2 linked regions of the Homo sapiens genome follow. The protein of the gene in region 2 interacts with the protein of the main gene of each other region in a pairwise test. Each region holds a gene or a part of one and is shown on either strand. Other genes may lie near its edges.

What was found. Proteins that work in one complex are often made in the same cells at the same time.
Region 1: the proteins of SGTB (region 2) and ABCG4 interact in binary tests that used the Homo sapiens proteins (3 or more experiments, as listed by UniProt).

The regions. Positions count from the first base shown.
Region 1 is NC_000011.10:119,152,052-119,159,051, forward strand, and holds part of ABCG4 (ATP-binding cassette sub-family G member 4), read left to right. Parts: intron 1-1,151; coding exon of another isoform or gene 1,152-1,206; exon of another isoform or gene 1,207-1,717; coding exon of another isoform or gene 1,718-1,763; intron 1,764-1,974; coding exon 1,975-2,092; intron 2,093-2,208; coding exon 2,209-2,341; intron 2,342-2,473; coding exon 2,474-2,524; intron 2,525-2,718; coding exon 2,719-2,864; intron 2,865-4,277; coding exon 4,278-4,401; intron 4,402-4,512; coding exon 4,513-4,627; intron 4,628-4,820; coding exon 4,821-4,963; intron 4,964-6,182; coding exon 6,183-6,281; intron 6,282-6,505; coding exon 6,506-6,674; intron 6,675-6,777; coding exon 6,778-6,878; intron 6,879-7,000. UniProt on the Homo sapiens protein: ATP-dependent transporter of the ATP-binding cassette (ABC) family that may be involved in the cellular efflux of sterols, in particular cholesterol and desmosterol (a cholesterol precursor), to high-density lipoprotein (HDL).
Region 2 is NC_000005.10:65,677,025-65,684,134, forward strand, and holds part of SGTB (small glutamine-rich tetratricopeptide repeat-containing protein beta), read right to left. Parts: intron 3,771-7,110; coding exon 3,632-3,770; intron 3,533-3,631; coding exon 3,470-3,532; intron 1-3,469. UniProt on the Homo sapiens protein: Co-chaperone that binds directly to HSC70 and HSP70 and regulates their ATPase activity.

The sequences.
Region 1 (7,000 bases), on a different chromosome or scaffold from region 2:
AGGGGAAGGTTCGTCGTTGCCAGTTTCTTCTCCTGCAAGAGATCACTTCCTGTGAGTGGCTCTGAAAGGCATATGCTGGAGTGCGCCACCAAATGTCTCTGATTGATGGCGAGGAGGACTGAGGCAGAGGGCTAGAGCCCACGGCTTCCCTCTCCCAGGAAAGAACTTGCTGTGTGACCCTGGGTGAGTCACTAGATGTCTCTGGGCCCCAGTTGCCTCACCCATGTTGTTAGAGAAACAGTTGAAGCTTTGTAAACCATGGGTACCATCCAGGCAGTTGCTGTGATCAGGACCTGGCAGCGGGCAGGAGCTGCTCCCCCTTCTGACGGGAAGCATCCAGAGGGAAAGCCGGGCCCAGAACACAGTCCTGGGTGTCGTGGAGGGAGGGTTAAATATGCCATCCCTTCACTGTCTCCACTAAGGACACTAAGGAGGTGGAGTGGGGAGGGACTTGGGCTCTGTGGGGGTTAGAGGGGGCAGCAATGAGCAAGGTGCTAGGTAAGGGATTGGCACGTCCTCACCTATGAGGCAGGTCTGCCAGCATCGCAGGCAGGGCCCTCCTTGGTGGCTTCATCCTTCCCCTCCACTTCCATGTCTCACCAGGTCACTCCATGTAGGCTCTGCCCTCTGTTCCTTGGATTGTGAGTGTATATACACATACTTTTATATCACAGAGCTTTTCCTCCCAAAGCCTAGAAGGCCTCTGCTTTCCCTTTGCCTTTTAGAATCCTGCTCATCCTTCAAGGCTTAGCTCAAACGCCACCTCTTCCATGAGGCCAGTCTTGATTTTCCTCTTTCCCCCCGACTCACGTCAATTCCATTCTTTGCGTTCTCACAGCACATTTTTTGTACTTCTGTTATAACCCTAATTTTATTTTTCTTCATAGATTTTTTTTGTTTTTCTGTCTTACTTAGACTATGACCTTCTTGAATATAAAAACTGTGTCTTCCTCAATTTTTATCCAGTGTTTGGTACAGAGCTTGGTATATAGTAGATATCAATAAGCATTTATCAAGTAGAATTAATAGTAAAATGTCACTTTTTAATGCATTCTATGTGCCAAGCACTGTGTCATGTGTTTTACATATATTATCTCATTGAATCTTTACAACAACCCTATGAGATAGGTACTATCATCCTCATTTTACAGATGAGGGACCTGGAGCTCAGAGAGGTTAAGCAACTTGCCCGAGGTCACACAGCTGGTAAGTGTGGAGCCAGAATTTGAACCCAGATCCACCTGACTCCAAACCGTGCTCTAAATGCATATGCTGCCTTCCAATGAATGAATGAAAGGTGAGATTTTACTGGGCCATGTAGGGGCTAGAGAAACAAGCCTGGTAGGCAGAGAGAGCGCAAAGAAGAAGGCTTTTTCTGAATTAGGGAAAAGCTCTGAGAACTCACGCTCGTGGAACAGACACTTACTGAACATCTACTACAGGCCAGACAGTCTGCTGAGATTACCAAGATGAGTGAGAACTGCCCCCAAGGAGCTCACTGACTAAGAGGCTGGGAGAGCTGGTCAAGTGACAGGCACATCAAGTAACAAACATGCTGGCATAGGAGAGGTGCTATGGAAACACAGGGGATAGGCAGCCAGCTCGGGCTGTAGTAGTGGGAGTTTTCCTGGAGGGGGCGAGACAGTGGCCACTGTGATTACAGAAGAGGACCAGGGTCTTCTACAGCTTTGATCCCCTCTCCACGCCCATCCATGAGATGTGTGGATTTTCCCACGCCTTTCAGAAGAGGATTGTTGCCTCTGGTACTTTGATATTAGTGGTGGTCGTTTCTAGGGGGACGGGATGAGAGGGATGGGTTCCTGCCGGGGCTATAAGGGTTGTTCCTCCATCCTAACCCAATCACACTGAGTAGGGGCTACCTATTTCACTGATAGCCATGGCTGCTCCTAAGAATTTTGGGGGTACCTCTGTTCACTGCAGCCTGACTAAAAATTCCTCCCCACCTCACTGCAGGTTATAAGACCCTTCTCAAGTGCCTCTCAGGTAAATTCTGCCGCCGGGAGCTGATTGGCATCATGGGCCCCTCAGGGGCTGGCAAGTCTACATTCATGAACATCTTGGCAGGATACAGGTAAGGAAGAGACTGGGGTGGAATGGAGGCAGGACTCAGGAAGAAGTATCCCTTGGGGAACACAGAAGGTATTCTGAAAGGGCATTGACCCCCATCCTCAACCCACATCCCTGCAGGGAGTCTGGAATGAAGGGGCAGATCCTGGTTAATGGAAGGCCACGGGAGCTGAGGACCTTCCGCAAGATGTCCTGCTACATCATGCAAGATGACATGCTGCTGCCGCACCTCACGGTGTTGGAAGCCATGATGGTGAGGGCTGGATAGTCACCCCTCCTCCCAGCAACCCCCTCTGTCTGCTGTCGCCACCTTCACCATTGGCGGAGGGTTCAAGGCAGAGCTCCCTCCCACACATACTTTTCTTGCTTACTCTCTGGGCCCCAGGTCTCTGCTAACCTGAAGCTGAGTGAGAAGCAGGAGGTGAAGAAGGAGCTGGTGAGTGGGGAAGGGAGGCAGTGGGACCACTCCCTTTTGTGGTGCTGCTGAGCTCAAGGCCCCGAGCTGGGAGTGGGAGAGTGGTGGCCTAGGCCGAGACAATGCACTTAAGGGAGATGCTTTTTGAAGCTGGGGTGGTGCCTGGGGGAAGCAGAGACTCCGAAGCTGACCTGGCATGGGTGGGGTGGGGCCAGGTGACAGAGATCCTGACGGCACTGGGCCTGATGTCGTGCTCCCACACGAGGACAGCCCTGCTCTCTGGCGGGCAGAGGAAGCGTCTGGCCATCGCCCTGGAGCTGGTCAACAACCCGCCTGTCATGTTCTTTGATGAGCCCACCAGGTAGTTCTCTCCACCCTTTCCCACCAGGATACCCCTCTCCTCTCGGCCCTGAGCCAGGGCTGGAGGCTGCATCTTCTCCATGATCCAGAGCCTCTGTTCACAGCCTCCTGGGGCCAAGATAAGGGCTTCTTCCTCATCTCCACCCTTGCCAATTCTGTTGCTGTGAGCTGCCCCATCCTTCGCCTGGGCAGAGATCTAGGTGTCCTCCTTGATTGACACCTCCCTCTCCAGTCACCCTCAGCCATCAGTCACCAAGTCCTGTTGATTCTGCCTCCTTTTGATATCTCTCAGATTTGCCCTGCCCCATCTCTAATGTTGATGTTAAGTTCAGGACAGCAACAGATTCTTATCTGCTTGTCTCCAGTGTCTCCCAGTCAATCCTTTCTCCAAACTGCAGCTACAGTGAACTTTCTTTTATTTTTTTAAGATGGAGTCTCGCTCTGTCACCCAGGCTGGAGTGCAGTGGCACAATCTCGGCTCACTGCAACCTCTGACTCCCGGGTTCAAGCGATTCTCCTGCCTCAGCCTCTTGAGTAGCTGGAATTACAGGCGTGTACCACCACACCCAGCTAGTTTTTGTATTTTTAGTAGAGATGGGGTTTCACCATGTTGGTCAGGCTGGTCTTGAACTTCTGACCTCAGGTGATCCACCCGCCTTGGCCTCCCAAAGTGTTGGGATTACAGGCGTGAGCCACCGTGCCCGGACAGAGTGAACTTTCTAAAGACAAGTCTGCAGTGCTCACTCCCCTGCTTAAAACATGCAGTGTTTCCTTTCTGACTTGTCCTCGAAATAAAGTCAGGTGACTTACAAGGGCCTGGTCTGAACCTACTTCTCCAGCCTCAAGTCATGTACTTTATGCTCTAATAATACTGAGTTGCTTGTAATTCCCTGGTCAAGCCACATGTTTCATGCCTCTAAGCTTTGCCCATGCTGTGTCTTCTGCTGGAATGCCCTTCACCACTGTGCCTGCCCTCTCCCCTTCACCTGCTTAGCTCTTACTCCTGGGCTCGCTCAGGAACCTTCTCTGACTACCCTCCAACACCTGCTACAGCTGAGCTGAATCCGCCCCCTCTTTCACCCAGTGTTGCTACAGCACTTTCCACATTACCCAAAATCATCTGTGTGCTTGTCTCTCTCTCCTTCCAGACCAGAGTCTATGTCTTATTTATGCATCATTGTAATCCCAGTGCCTGGCATACAACAGGTCCTCAATATATGCTTATGAAACTGAACAGTGCTCTTGGCTTCTGGGTATCCCTCCAAGTGCCTGAACCGTAAAGGATACAGATGCGGCCAGAGTGCCCTCTTCCTGCCAGCTTCATCCCCTTCACAGCAGCTGCCCCGCCCCAGACACTCCCTTCTTTTGGCCTCACCCACCTCACGTGGCCCCCTGGTGGCCTCTCTCTGGACAGTGGTCTGGATAGCGCCTCTTGTTTCCAAGTGGTGTCCCTCATGAAGTCCCTGGCACAGGGGGGCCGTACCATCATCTGCACCATCCACCAGCCCAGTGCCAAGCTCTTTGAGATGTTTGACAAGGTGAGTGTCTCCAGGCCTCAAGGAGGATTGGCCTGAGATGGAGGGATGGAAGGGGGTCAGTAGGGGTGCCTGGCCCGCTGTTCCTTCCTTACCCTTCTCTTTCTGCTGCAGCTCTACATCCTGAGCCAGGGTCAGTGCATCTTCAAAGGCGTGGTCACCAACCTGATCCCCTATCTAAAGGGACTCGGCTTGCATTGCCCCACCTACCACAACCCGGCTGACTTCAGTGAGTGGGGGTCTGTTGGTAGGGGCTGGGAAACAGCAGTGGGCCGAACCTGGGGTCTCTGGTCTTGCACTCAGGCCTCCTAGGGGTAGAGATCTCACCGTCGCCTGCCTTCCCCACACACCCAAGGCGGGACTGACTTGCCCTTGGGAAGTGAGTGTGAATCTAAACTGAGCTCTCCACTCTGTGTCCCCAGTCATCGAGGTGGCCTCTGGCGAGTATGGAGACCTGAACCCCATGTTGTTCAGGGCTGTGCAGAATGGGCTGTGCGCTATGGCTGAGAAGAAGAGCAGCCCTGAGAAGAACGAGGTCCCTGCCCCATGCCCTCCTTGTCCTCCGGTGAGTAGGGGTGGAGAGGGCAGAGCAGGCATAGTTGGGGAGGGGAGACTGGACCATGGACAGTGGCCCTGCCAAAGAGGCTGTTCCCCAGAGGCATTGCAACCAATGGGTGCTAGGAAGAACCTAGGACTTGGAATCGACCTACTAGGAACAGCACTGTGACCTTAGGCACATTATTTAACCTCCTTGAGCTCCAGTTTCCTCATTGACTTATTCATTCAGCAAGTTCTTGTTGAGCAGCTACAGTGTGCTGTCCTCGGTCCTGGCATAGTGCCCATCTGGTAAGCAAGATCAACATGGTCCCCAGCTTAGTGGCCAGTGTGGCTTACTGTTCTCTCTAACTTAGAGATGATGATACTCACCTCACAGGGTGATTGGGAGGACTAATTAGATAATCACATAAAGCTCTTAGCACTGTAGCTGGTACAGCAGGCGTCTGCCCAGTGCTAGTTCTCTTCCTTAAATGAGACACTGTAACCCCTGAAAACCAGATTGATTAGTTTTTGTTGTTATTGTTGTCATTATCATCATTATTAAATAACATTACTGTAAAATTGGTGGCATAAAGGAATTATACCTGGCCGGATACAGTGGCCCACGCCTGTAATCCCAGCACTTTGGGAGGCCGAGGCGGGTGGGTCAGGAGATGGAGACCATCCTGGCTAACACGGTGAAACCCCATCTCTACTAAAAATACAAAAATTAGCCGGGCGTGGTGGCGGGCGCCTGTAGTCCCAGCTACTCGGGAGGCTGAGGCAGGAGAATGGCGTGAACCAGGGAGGCGGAGCTTGCAGTGAGCTGAGATTGCGCCACTGCACTCCAGACTGGGCGACAGAGCGAGACTCCGTCTCAAAAACAAAACAAAACAAAACAAAAAAAACCCAAAACAAAACAAAAAAGGAATTATACCCTTAGAGTTCATGTGTTTTGATGGATTAAAAAAGTAACCGATCTATTATTAGCCACCACGGGTGTCCATTACTTTCTTTCCATCTCCTCCCTCCCAAGTTTTTGCCCCCTTTTTGTGTCTGAATCTTGCTCTGATTCATACCCCTAAGCCTAGCTTTCAGGTACACAACTTAATGGTACAAGATTCTCTGTAGACCTGGAGGACCCCTACCCTGGGGAAGAGCTCTGAGGTTTTTCATTCACTGAGCTGGGTGTTCTGTGGGTGAATGGGGTAGGCTCACCTGATCCCGATCCAATTTCTTCTTCCCAGGAAGTGGATCCCATTGAAAGCCACACCTTTGCCACCAGCACCCTCACACAGTTCTGCATCCTCTTCAAGAGGACCTTCCTGTCCATCCTCAGGGACACGGTGAGGCGTCAGGCTGGGGGAGAGGAGGCTGGCACAGGCCTGACCTTTTGGGCTGTAGGATCCCAGCAGCTGAAATGGGAATGGGGACCCTCCCTCACAGCCCTGCAATGTGCCTGTGGGGTCTCTGTGCCTGTGAGGGCAGCTCCGAGTTCCTACTCCAAGTCTACTCTGTGGCTTGCCCTGGCCTGTAACACATCCCTCTCCTGGTGATGACCCCTCCCAAGGTCCTGACCCACCTACGGTTCATGTCCCACGTGGTTATTGGCGTGCTCATCGGCCTCCTCTACCTGCATATTGGCGACGATGCCAGCAAGGTCTTCAACAACACCGGCTGCCTCTTCTTCTCCATGCTGTTCCTCATGTTCGCCGCCCTCATGCCAACTGTGCTCACCTGTGAGCTGAGCTGCCCTGGGCATGGGGCAAGGGTGTGGGTGCTGGGGCTTGGGGCAGGGGCCAGGGTGTCGGCCGGGTGTGCCTAAGCAGCCTGTGTCCTCAGTCCCCTTAGAGATGGCGGTCTTCATGAGGGAGCACCTCAACTACTGGTACAGCCTCAAAGCGTATTACCTGGCCAAGACCATGGCTGACGTGCCCTTTCAGGTGGGCCTCTTCCTCCCACCTGCCCACTGCCTCCATCTTGTCTTGCTCCTTCTATCCTTGCTTTCTTGCCTCCCTCAAACTTGTCACTTTCCTTCCTTTGCTGTCCTTCTACTCACTTAGCA
Region 2 (7,110 bases):
AAAATGAATACAGGAGCTAGTTTTTTGATAAAATTAATAAAATAGACCGCTAGCTATACTAATGAAGAAAAAAGAGAGAAGATTCAAACAAACACAATCAAAAATGATATTACCACTGACCCCACAGAAATACAAACAACCATCAAAGAATAGTATAAACAGTCCTATGCGCATAAACTAGAAATTTTACTAATGAATTTCTAGAAGAACTTGATAAATTCCTGGACACATACATCCTCCCAAGACTGAACCAGGAAGAAATTGAATCCCTGAATAAACCAATAATGAGTTCTGAAATTGAGGCACTAATAAATAGCCTACCAACCAAAAAAAAAAAAAAAAGCCCAGGACCAGACGAATTCACAGCTGAATTCTACCAGAGGTACAAAGAAGAGCTGGTACCGTTCCTACAGAAACTATTCTAAAAAATTGAAAAGGAGGATCTCCTCCCTAATTCATTCTATGAGGCCAACATCATCCTGATACCAAAACCTGGCAGAGATACAATAACAAAAAAGAAAACTTCAGGCCAATATCCTTGATGAACATTGATACAAAAATCCTCAGCAAAATACTGGCAAACTGAATCCAAGCAGCACATCAAAAAGCTTACCCATCACAATCACGGAGGCTTCATCCCCAAGATGCAAGGCTGTTTCTACATATGCAAATCAATAAATGTGATTCATCTCATAAACAGAACTAAAGACAAAAACCCCATGATTATCTCAATAGATGCTGAAGAGGCCTTCAAGAAAATTCAACATCCTTTCATATAAGAAACTCTTAATAAACTAGATATTGAAGGAACATACCTCAAAATAATAAAAGCCATATATGACAAACCTACAGCCAATATCATACTGAATGGGCAAAAGCTGGAAGTGTTCCCCTTGAAAACCAGCACAAGACAAAATACCCTCTCTCATCACTCCTATTCAACAAATTAATAGTATTGGAAGTTTTGGCCAGGGAAATGAAGCACAATAAAGAAATAAAGCATATTCAAATAGGAAGAGAGGAAGTCAAATTATCCCTATATGCAGATGACAGGATCCTATATCTAGAAAACCCTATTGTCTCAGTCGAGAAGTTTATTAAGCTGATAAGCAACTTCAGCACAGTCTCAGGATACAAAATCAATGTGCAAAAATTGCTAGCATTCCTACATACCAACAACAGGCAAGTCGAAAGTCAAATCACAAATGAACTCGCATTCACAATTGCCATAAAAAGAATAAAATATCTAGAAATACAGCTAACAGGCAAAGTGAAGGAACTCTTCAAGGAGAACTACAAACCACTGCTCAAGGAAATAAGAGAGAACAGAAACAAGTGGAAAAACACTCCATGCTCATGGATAGAAGAATCAAAATCGTGAAAATGGCCATATTGCCTAAAGCAATTTATAGATTCAATGCTATTCCCATTAAACTACCATTGACATTCTTCACAGAATTAGAAAAAACTATTTTAAAATTCATATGGAACCAAAAAAGAGCCCAAACATCCAAGGCAATCCTAAACAAAAAGAACAAAGCTGAGGCATCATGCTACCCAATTTCAAACTGTACTACAGGGCTACAATAACCAAAACTGCATGGTACTGGTACAAGAACAGACACATAGACCAGTGGAACAGAACAGAGAACCCAGAAATAAGACTGCACACTCACAACCATCTGATCTTTGACAAACCTGGCAAAAGCAATGGGGAAAGGATTCCCTATTTAATAAGTGTTGCTGAGAGAATTGGCTAGCCATATGGAGAAAATTGAAACTGGACCCCTTCGTTATACCATATATATACAAAAATCAACTCAAGATGGATTAAAGACTTAAATGTGCAACTCAAAACTATAAGAACTCTATAAACCGAGGCAATATCATTCAGGACATAGACACAGGCAAAGATTTCATGATGAAGATGCCAAAAGCAATTGCAACAAAAGAAAAAATTGACAAATGGGATCTAATTAAACTAAAGAGTTTCTTTTCCACACCAAAAGAAACAATCAACAGAGTAAACAGACAACCTACAGAATGGGAGAACATTTTTGCAATCTATCTATCTGACAAAGGTCTAATATCCTACATCTATAAGAACTTAAACAAATTTACAAGAAAAAAACAACCCCATTATAAAGTGGGCAAAGGAAATGAACAGACAATTCTCAAAAGAAGACATATATGTGGCCAACAAACATATGAAAAAACAGCTCAACATCATTGATCATTAGAGAAATGCAAATCAAAACCACAATGAGATACCATCTCACACAAGTCAGAACAACTATAATTAAAAACTCAAAAACAGGCCAGGTGTGGTGGCTCATGCCCGTAATCCCAGCACTTTGGGAGGCTGAGGCAGGCGGATCACCAGAGGTCATTTGACTAGCCTGGTCAGCATGGTGAAACCCCATCTCTACTGACAATACAATAATTAGCCAGGCATGGTTGTGGGTGCCTATAATCCCAGCTACTCAGGAGGCTGAGGCAGGAGATTCGCTTGAACCCAGGAGGTGGAGGTTGCAGTGAGCCAAGATCACACCATTGCACTCCAGACTGGGTGACAAGAGTGAAACTCTGTCTCAAAAAACAAACAAACAACAACAACAACAAAAAAAACAAAAACCAACAGATGCTGGCGAAGTTGTGGAGAAAAAGGAATGCTTTTAACACTGTTGGTGGAAATGTAAATTAGTTCAACCATTGTGGAAGACAGTGTGGTGATTCCTCAAAGACCTAGAAGCAGAAATACCATTCGACCCAGCAATCCCATTACTGGGTATATACCCGAAGGAATAGAAATCTTTCTACTGTAAATACACATTCGTACGTATGTTCACTGCAGCACTATTCACAATAGCAAAGACATGGAATCAATGCAAATGCCTATCAATGATAGACTGGATAAAGAAAATGCGGTACATATACACCATGGAATGCTATGCAGCCAAAACAAGAAATAAGATTATGTCCCTCGCAGGGACATGGATGGAGCTGGAGGCCATTTTACCATTTTACTTAACAAACTAACACAGGAAAAGAAAACCAAATAACACATGTTCTCACTTACAAGTGGGAGCCAAATGATGAGAACACAATGACACATGTAGGGGAACAACACACACTGGGGCCTGTTGGAGGGCAGAGGATGGGAGGAGAGGAAGGATCACGAAGAACAGCTAATAGATGCTGGGCTTAATACCTGGGTAATGGGAGGATCTGTGCAGCAAACTACCATGGCAGACGTTTTACCTATGTAACAAACCTGCACATCCTGCACATTTACCCCTGCACTTGAAATAAAAGTTGGAAATAAAAAAACAGAACCCTGCTATAGCCTTATATCAATACTCCACTACAACCACCACCACAAAAACTCACTTGTTTCTAAAAAAAATTGCATAGCTACATAGTCTATGGAAAACATAGCCAGTAGAGGCAGAAAAGAAAGTATACTCACCATACTAATGAAGGCTGGATTATTTATCAAGCTAGCCATGTCAAAGCTCAGTCCAGTTCCTGTCTGTAAAACAATTATATCTGAGAATCAGTCCAGTATCTACAATTACAATAAATTGTGAATGACAGAAAATACTTCACTCATTTGGCATTAACAACTTACAGGACTGGATACCTCTCTTAACTTCTGTTCTGCTATTTTCAGATTTGACTTATAGGAATCATTTTCAGGGTCAAGATCTAATGCCTTTTGATAACTTGTAACTGCTTCTTCAAATTTATTCAAGGCAGTGAGGGCCAGCCTGAAGGGAATAGAATATAAGAATATCAGATATATGATTAAAGAACATCAGGACATCACAAACATCGTCAAACGTCTGTCTGTCTTGGTATTCAGTTCTAATCCAGATTACACTTAATTTATTCACTGTACTATGGCTCACGGGAGCAAAATTCCCTCCAACTTAAGATTCTATATATCTGAACTCACTCCATTCTGCTTGCTGATAACCTGGTTGTCCTATAGATCATGAATTTAATGCTTAGAGATTATCTTACTTACTCTACCATTTTTAAGCTTAATATGTAAAATAATTTGCTTTATAAATGCCTAGACTAAGTTCCAAAAGATGTGAGTTGACAATCATGTGGTCACATAAATCCATGATGCTAACACCATTTTTAAGGACTCTAAACTGTATTTGTGCTTCAAAATGGCCTACATGCTTTCTTCTTCCTAACAGAGGAACAATTAATATCAATTTTCCATTAAGAAAACAGGCTGTAGTTATTAGATAACTATTCCTGATCAAAAGAGGTAGATAAAATTAGCATCCTTTACAATTCAAATAACAAATTATACCAGGCACAAGTCAAAGAGGTATTAAATTTTAATGTTCATATTTACCTAGTTATAATTTACTTATTGAAAAATTATTATAGAACTAAACAATAACTGTATATATGGTGACATAGTATTAGGGGTTTCTGTTTGTTTTAGGTTTGTTTTAAACAAATTACTGTTTTCTTTTCTCTTTTTCTCTTTATCGGAACCTAATTCATTTTCTACCAGTCAACCATGTATGATACTTTATCAGAGTCCCCAGTTAATCAAGAGTCAAGTCAGTAACTATTTACTGAAACTCTATGATGTATAAGAATATTATTAAAATAATATCTAAAGATACTGAGGATCCTGGCTGGGCGCAGTGGCCCACGTCTCTAATCCCAGCAGCACTTTGGGAGGCCAGGGTGGGTGGATCACTTGAGGTCAGGAGTCTGAGACCAGTCTGGCCAACATGGTGAAGCCCTGTCTCTACTAAAAATACAAAAATTAGCCAAGCATGGTGGCAGACGCCTGTAATCCCAGCTACTAGGAAGGCTGAGGCATGAGAATTGCTTGAATCCAGGAGGCGGAGGTTGCAGTGGGCCGAGATTGTGCCATTGCACTCCAGCCTGGAAAACAAGAGCGAAATTCCATCTCAAAAAAAAAAAAAGATAAAGTTTTCTGTCTTTAAGAAAATTTCATTCTACCTGGGGAAGACAGGCAACAAGCATGCAAATAAAAAGGGCAATATTAAAGGAATGAATAGGAGAGCTGCTCAAAAAGTAGCCACATTGGAAAGATCTGAGTGATGTAAAGAAAGCAGTCATGAAAATGAGGGAGGAGCATTGTAGTGGAAATAGCAGTAAACAGAAAGGTCCCAAGAAAGATGCAAGCTTGGTATTCTTAAGGAACAGGACAAGGGCTGATGAGGAGGGAACACAGAAAACAAAGCATGGAGAGATGATGTCAGAGAACAGTTGGGTGCCAGATGATAGAGGACCATTGCTTGGAGTTTGAACTTTATTCTGGTTGCAATGGAGTCACATGATACAATTTGTGCTTTTGAAAGCTCACTCTGGCTTCTACGTAGAGGATCTACATGGGCAGAAGGGTAGAATGGAGGCAGGGAGATCGGTTAGGAAGCTATTGCAGTAGCTTAGGTAAGAGATGTAGTTTGGACTGGGGCTATATGTAAGATAGCGATCAACACTTGGATTCAAGATATATACAGAAACTAGAATTGACAGGACTTGATGACAGAGTATCAGTACTTATGTCAGGCGTAATAACAATGAAGGATGACTCTTAGGCTTCTGACCTGTGCATGGGATAGATAACTAATTGTACAATGTATTGAGATTGGAAAGATTTTGGAAGGGAACATGAGTTCTGTCTGGGACATGTTAAGTTTAAATACCTATTAAACATCCAAACATAGAGTTGAAGAGTAGTAGAATATATGAGTACGGAGTTCAAACATATAAATTAGATCCGATAATATATATAGTTGATTCTTATTCACAGTAGTCCTGTTCTATAAAGTCACCATGAACAATGAATTAGCAAATACTGAACAATTGTTCCTAGGGAAAATACAGAGTTAGGTTCCTGCAACTGTTGTAAATAGTCATATTTTCATCAACTGATCAATATATAATCTTGTTTTTATGTGTGTTTCTGATTAAAGAAACTTTATTTAATATATATATTTTATTCATTAGCATTGAACTCATAGCCAACGGCACTAACTCATGCCTGAATGAAGCTTGTCTCATAAATATATTTTCTCCATAAGGCACATTACAGTCCTCTTGCACTTAGGAATACTAGATAACACTTCAGCCTATAGTTGGGGGCCACTGTAAACAGCAAAATCACAAATAAAAGGCACAAAAATACAAAAAAAAATGTAGCACTAAATAGACTGTTTCAGCATGAGAGCTGAAACAAAAAGATAGAGCATCACCTTATTCACCCTCAGTTGAGATCGAGAGCATCAGAAGACACATTTTCACTAATTGTGCATGTACATGAATGACCACAGAAGCAGTGTAAATATTGATTTGGGGATTACAAATTAATTTAGCAAGTAGGCAAATTCATAAATACAGAATCTGCAAATAATGAGTATCAACTGTAGATGAATTTTAAAAGCATGGAGCAGGATAAACTGAGCAGAGAGAAGACAAAGAAACAGCAGCAGCAGAGGATGCAACCCTAAAATACAGCATTGTTTAGAGATGGTAGAGAGGAAGAACAAGCAAGGGAGACTGGAAAAGAGCATCCAGTAAAGTGGAAGGGGAAACAGGGCAAGTGTAGTGTCAGGATCCTAGAGAGTGATGTATTTTGACAATAAGTTAATAGTGGCCTGTAATCCCAGCACTTTGGGAGGCCGAGGTGGGTGGATCGTGAGGTCAGGAGATCGAGACCATCCTGGCTAACGCAGTGAAACCCCGTCTCTACTAAAAATACAAAAAATTAGCTGGGCATGGTGGCGGGTGCCTGTAGTCCCAGCTACTCGGGAGGCTGAGACAGGAGAATGGCGTGAACCCAGGAGGCAAAGCTTGCAGTAAGCTGAGATCGCGCCACTGCACTGCAGCCTGGGTGACAGAGCGAGACTCTGTCTCAAAAAAAAAAAAAGAAAAAAAGAGATGACAAAGATGAAACAGCAAGTACAGATAACCATCAGGGGCAGAGAACGAGGAACTGAGAAGTGGGATGGTGGCTAGAGGGGAACGCTGGGTAAAGGGATGGGTCCAACTAATGATTTTTTTTCTTTTTTTTGAGACAGGGTCTCACTCTGTCACTCAGGCTGG